2 separate regions of the Homo sapiens genome follow, and region 1 is linked to region 2. A link means that fine-mapping ties the variant in region 2 to the expression of a gene that starts in the linked region. Tissue or cell type: spleen. Region 2 holds a variant in brackets; the other region holds the start of a gene. All regions are shown on one strand. Distances are from middle to middle.

Region 1 (2,669 bases), 59 kb after region 2:
AAGGAAGTTGGAGAAAGAAAAACAGAATTGTTCAGATGGGGCACCCTAATTTGGCTGAGTTAATACTGGGACATGGAAAATCCTAACCCATTTCAGAACCAACCTTCTTTCTTTAGGCGGGTATAATAAGAAACCCAGTTTCCCCACCTCCAGATCCTCACCCAGCCAGGCACGGTACTGCTCAAGGGGGACTCCTTCCATAGGTTCCTCTTCATTATCCACAACCATAAGGGGAGAGGGTGAGCGAGGCCCCTCTGGGATCACAGTGAAGGTAGGAACACTGCAGAGAAGCAACACTACTCTTTAAAATGAGCAAGCGTCTCCTCCTCCTACTCCGTAGCTACACCCAACTTTCCCCACCCTCTTAGACTCTTGCTGCCTAAATCTGGACCCTGAAGTCACAGTGTCCATTCGGTCTTCTAGAAAGCCCAGTCGGCTTCTAACTACTATCTCTGCTCCTAAAGTTCCCCTTATAAAACTATGACCCTCTTGGCCTCACCTCTTGGTCCCCAGGACTTGTCCCCCAAGCTTGATTTTGAGTTTGAGCTGAGGCTTGGCAGGGGACGGCTGCGTGGGCCCGGCGTCTTCTTCCTGATGGTGTTTCTTCTTGTGTTTCTTCTTGTGCTTCTTGTGTTTTTTCTTGTGCACTCCATGGCCATGGGCACCCGCCAGGCTCAACTCCAGGGCTTCTCCTGTGGAAGGAAAGCCTGTCGACAGTGTTTGGCCGGAGGGTGGCAGGGGAAGCCCTGAATAACCTAAGCCCCTACTGGATCCCACCCTTCCCGCAGTACTCGCTGTTACCATAACAACAGCACCGCCTTTCTCCTTGCCACCTGTGGCCGAAGTACCCTGGACTCTCCGAGGAGCAAGAACGGGACTTCTTTTCTAACACGACCTAAATTGCTTGATCTATTCGCGCTTACCCGGCTCAGGGGCCTCCATAGCCCCAGAGGTGCTCCCACGCCGCCACAGCTTACTCATGAGGTCCTGCGAGGAAAGGGGACTAGAAATGGTTGGGACACACGCAGACACGCCTTTTCCGCCCCGCGGAAAAACTGGAGCCAGCAAAACAACCAGTTACTTCCGGTTCATGGCAACCATCCTTGTGCGGGGCACGCTTCGCGTCCAAAATCGTCCCTGAGAAACGAGGATCCTTCCAACGAACGTTCCGGTCCCTCTGAGGTCGGGACAGCCCAAATGGGCAGGGCTTTCCCCTGGCTCCGCCTCCCCACGCTAGCTTTCAGAACTCAGCGCGGATGAGTCAATTATTGAACACAAGTTTGGTGAATGTATACACTAGACCAAGTGCGGGAAGCTAGTCTAAGAGGATGCAAAGATGAATATGAACACCGCCCCTGTCCTTGAGGAACTCACAGTTGGGTGGAGGAATACATAAACTATATTGATGACAAAATGGCCGAAATGGTTAAACAGCACGAGTGCCCTAAGAGCAGATGCAGTTTAGGTATTTAAACTTCAATTTTCATAAGTAGGGAAATGAATAAATGAATTACGGTGCAGCTGTACAATGCGGAACACCATATTGCTAAGAAAAGTTGAGTTGTAAGTAATTAATGAGATTGACACAGAATTTAAACAATCTAAGTGTCCTGATGAATTGGTGTATCCATACAGTGGGATGTTAAGCAGCTTGGAAAAGAAATGAGGCGCCCCAGAAGGCTATCTAGGAAATTGGTAAGAGTCATTTGCTGATGAGCATCTAGAGAACAAGGGTGGATGGCGACCTATTTTTTTATGATTATACCCTCTTGTGCCTTTTGAATTTTGTATAAAACGTGTATATTTTACCTCATTTTAAAAAAGACATAAAAACAGGTAGGTTTGTATGTGCTGATACACGAAATAAGAAAAGTAAATTTCCCATCCTGGCTAATACGATGAAACCCCGTCTCTACTAAAAATACAAAAAAAAAAAAAAAAATTAGCCGGCGTGATGGCACGCGCCTGTAGTCCCAGCTACTCGGGAGGCTGAGGCAGGAGAATCGCTTGAACCCGGGAGGTGGAGGTCGCAGTGAGCCGAGATCGCGCCACTGCACTCCAGCCTGGTCGACAGAGCGGGACTCCGTCTCAAAAAAAAGAAAAAAAAAAAAAAGTAAATTTCAAGATTATGTGATCTGATTTTTAAAAGCATAATATACTAGCAAATACATAGAAAAAATTGAGGAATGTATACCTGTTAATGTTGGTTAACTGTAGAAGTTGGGGTTGAGGAACTTTCACTATTTAGGTATGTAATGTATTTTCTTACAGCCAATATATATCACGTTTATAATTAGAAAATAACACCTATATACATATATCTAAATATATATGAGTGTCTGAGCAAGGTAACAGCAGTGAAAAGTCTCTTACATTTCAGTGATAAAATTATCAAGAATCAATGAGCAATTATATTGGGGAATCCAGGATTAAGTCATGTAGTATGTGATTATGAAAAGGGATTTTGGAGTCAGACAAGCCTATTATCAAATCCCAGTTTCACCATTTATTAGCTATGCAACCTTGGGCCTAAAATTATTTAAGCTCTCTGAACCTGAGAATCCAGCTCTATAAGATGGAATACAGTAGGATCCACCGCTATGAGGGCTCTTTCAAGGAATAAAGGAAATCAAGAACTCATGATACTTAGGGTGGCAGCAGGCACAGGC
Region 2 (2,844 bases):
AGGCCTAGACCGCCCCCTGGGGTTTCGGGGCCGCTCAGGATCTGATCGATGCCGAAGCTGATTGGCTCGTGGTGTGGGAGGTTGTGTGGACCCAGCATCCCCGGCTCCATCGGTCTGGGCCGAGGAGAACCGCCGGAGGTTCGGTGGTTGGGGAGGATGCCTCAGGCAGCGCCAGAAGCCCAGCGGCGGCGCGCTCCGGAGAGTGGCCTCAGGGGCCCGCGGGGCTGGCCAAGGCAGGGCGCCGGGGTCCCCGAAACAGCAGCATCCCTGTGCACCCGGAGCAGCCGCGCCCGTGCCAGCCGCTGCCGGGCGTCAGCGCAGGGACTTGCATCCCGGGGGAGCACGGCCAGCTGGGGCCCCTGGAGCTTCCTTGCTGGCTCTTAAGCGCAAATAGACGCTGGGCTGCCGGCGCCGCTGCCCAAGTCCCGGGTGGAGAGGGTTGGCCAGCTCCGGCTGGGGCAGTGACTGACGGATCGGCCCGGGTGGGTAGTGGGGGCTGGGGGTAGGGCAGGGGCGGGGCCCAGCAGTTAAAGGGGAAGGGACGCCTGTTTGCGCCAAGCGCAGGGGGAAGGCTGGCTGGCGGAGATGTGCGGGGAGGGGGACAGGGGGCCAGGGTGTTAGGAGCCAGGCTCAGCGCGGGAGGGGCCCGAGCATGGGCCGCTGAGTCAGCGGAGATGCTCACCGCGCCTCCATCCTTGCTGGCCTCCGCCTTTGGGCGGCCTCCGCCTTTGGGCTGCCTCCGCCTCACCGGCTTCCTCCGCAGGTGCCTCCTCCCCCAGCCCCCACTCTTCGCCTCTCGATGGATCCTTCTGGCCAACTCCCGGATTCGTTGTGGTCCCCGCCTAAATGCTCTCGAAGACCAAATCTCGTTGTGGTTTCCCGGCTGCGTAAGAAGCGGCTGGGGAACGGCGCCCGGTGAGCTGCAGGCCCAGGAAGAGAACAGGTGTGGGAAGGGGACGGCAGGGGCTAAGGGCGGGGAACGGCCGCTTTGGGCTGGCGATCGTGGTGCGCCTTCTGGCCTCTCCTGTAGGTCCCCCCAGCCCTGTTCATGCGCACCGGTAATTGGTGTCCTGTGTTTCCTA[G/A]AATTTCGATTTTCCAAAATCCGTGTAAAACGGACCATGGCTCAACCCGGGCCAAATCAGGCCGGCGGGTTCTTGGGGCTGGCACTTACCCCCGGACCCCAAGTGCAGGGAGTCCTCAATGCAGGACTCTGCCCCTCCATTCTGTGCCTAGGAAGTCTGTTCTCACACTCTTCCTCCTCAACGGCGGGAGGGCGAAATCTCGCCACGGGGGACACGTGGGACCTCACTGAGGCCTTGGTTGGATCCTGGCCGCCTTGTTTCCCATAAACATTTTACCCCACCCAAACTCAAAAAATGGCCTGGAGCTGTCAGAGAAGGGAGGTGGGGAAAGACCTAAGCCGCTTGGTGACCTTGTGACCTCTGGCCATGAATCCAGGAGCCGGGAGTGCGTGAACTCTGCGTCCTTCCCGGGGATGGGACCCCCGCGGGCGGGCCCCTGAGCCTTAGACCCGCCCCCGCCGCCGCCCTGCCCGGTGCAGGCCGCGGTAATCGGGTTAGCTGGGCCGGAATTACATTACCTTCCCCGGCCCGCCCCGGCCCCCGGGGGGGCCCTGGCGCCTCTGAGCCGGTGAGACTGGGCTCAGAGAGGGGGGCGCTTCTACCATCCTGCGGTGGCGGTGGCGGGTGGGCACCAACGAGCAGCTCAGCCTACCTCTGACACGTGGTGGCCAAAGGACCTTACCCTGCTGTGCCAGCCCTCTACCCTCGTCCCGAGCCCACCCCGCTGTTCAGCTCCATCCTGCTGGTTCCCGTGTGAACCGAAATGCTTTGTAAGTCTACTAGCTGGATCTCCCTGGGAGCACTGATCTTCAAACTGATTCTCCAGGATCCCCTGGGAAAGACTCTGCCCCCTCCTTTCTCCCCAGCAGATGGGCTGGCAGCCTGGCGCCTGGGGCAGGGTGAAGGGGTCTTTTCTCCCCTGGGAACCAGGAATGATATTTGGGCATCTGGGCAGAAAGATAAAGAAGAGAAAGAAGGGTGAGCTCTGTCCACCAGCCCTTCAGTGTTCTCTGAAGCCTTATATCTAGAGGAGGTGAACCATAAATGGGACAGAGGGCAGTGGGAGGAATAGTGGGCATTAATATGTGTCAACCTGCCAGGCGCGGTGGCTCACGCCTGTAATACCAGCACTTTGGGAGGCCGAGGCGGGTGGATCACGAGGTCAGGAGATTGAGACCATCCTGGCTAACACGGTGAAACCCATCTCTACTAAAAATACAAAAATTAGCTGGGCGTGGTGGCGGGTGCCTGTAGTCCCAGCTACTTGGGAGGCTGAGGCAGGAGAATGGCATGAACCCGGGAGGTGGAGCTTGCAGTGAGCCGAGATCGCGCCACTGCACTCCAGCCTGGGCAACACAGCAAGACTCTGTCTGAAAAAAAAAAAAAAGTGTCAACCTCCCCCACCTTGACCACTCTACTATCCAATTTGTCCAGCCCCTCCTCAGCCCTGCTAACAGCCCGTTCTGAAAGAGGGTGGGGGCTCCTACCAATTTAGCAGATGTATTTTCATCTTGATGGAGAAGACAGACATTATCACCTCCCGTCTCTTTACAGAAACCCATGCACTTTTCTCAGCAGTAGAGAGGGCTACAAGGAAGCATGAACCTGTTTAGTCCAAATCTTCAGGCCGGGAGCAGTGGCTCATGCCTGTAATCCCACCACTTTGGAATGCCAAGAGGGGACGGATCACCTGATGTCAGGAGTTCAAGACCAGCCTGGCCAACATGGTGAAACCCCGTCTCTATTAAAAATACAAAAAAAT

Alleles and levels. Positions count from the first base shown, and alleles are read on the strand shown. Sizes are in standard deviations (SD) of each study's normalised expression.
For the expression in spleen of the gene that starts at base 1,011 in region 1, G is the high allele of the variant in region 2 and A is the other (large effect, 0.78 SD a copy in GTEx).

What was found. PIP is the estimated chance that this variant, and not a neighbour inherited with it, causes the effect.
Region 1: it holds the start of INO80B, and the variant in region 2 is fine-mapped to the expression of INO80B in spleen (GTEx, PIP 0.96).

Annotation. Positions count from the first base shown.
Region 1 is chr2:74,453,429-74,456,097 of GRCh38, reverse strand. INO80B (INO80 complex subunit B) reads right to left here and starts at 1,011. Exons shown (of 5, transcript NM_031288.4): 1 at 924-1,011; 2 at 500-692; 3 at 162-280. The coding sequence starts at 981. INO80B-WBP1 (INO80B-WBP1 readthrough (NMD candidate)) reads right to left here and starts at 1,075. Exons shown (of 8, transcript NR_037849.1): 1 at 924-1,075; 2 at 500-692; 3 at 162-280. RefSeq lists an enhancer at 908-1,497.
Region 2 is chr2:74,512,073-74,514,916 of GRCh38, reverse strand. It overlaps TLX2 (T cell leukemia homeobox 2), which reads right to left and starts at 467. Exons shown (of 3, transcript NM_016170.5): 1 at 1-467. The coding sequence starts at 110. RefSeq lists silencers at 410-509, 1,547-1,606 and an enhancer at 1,481-2,149. The variant G/A (reference allele first, on the strand shown) is at 1,083.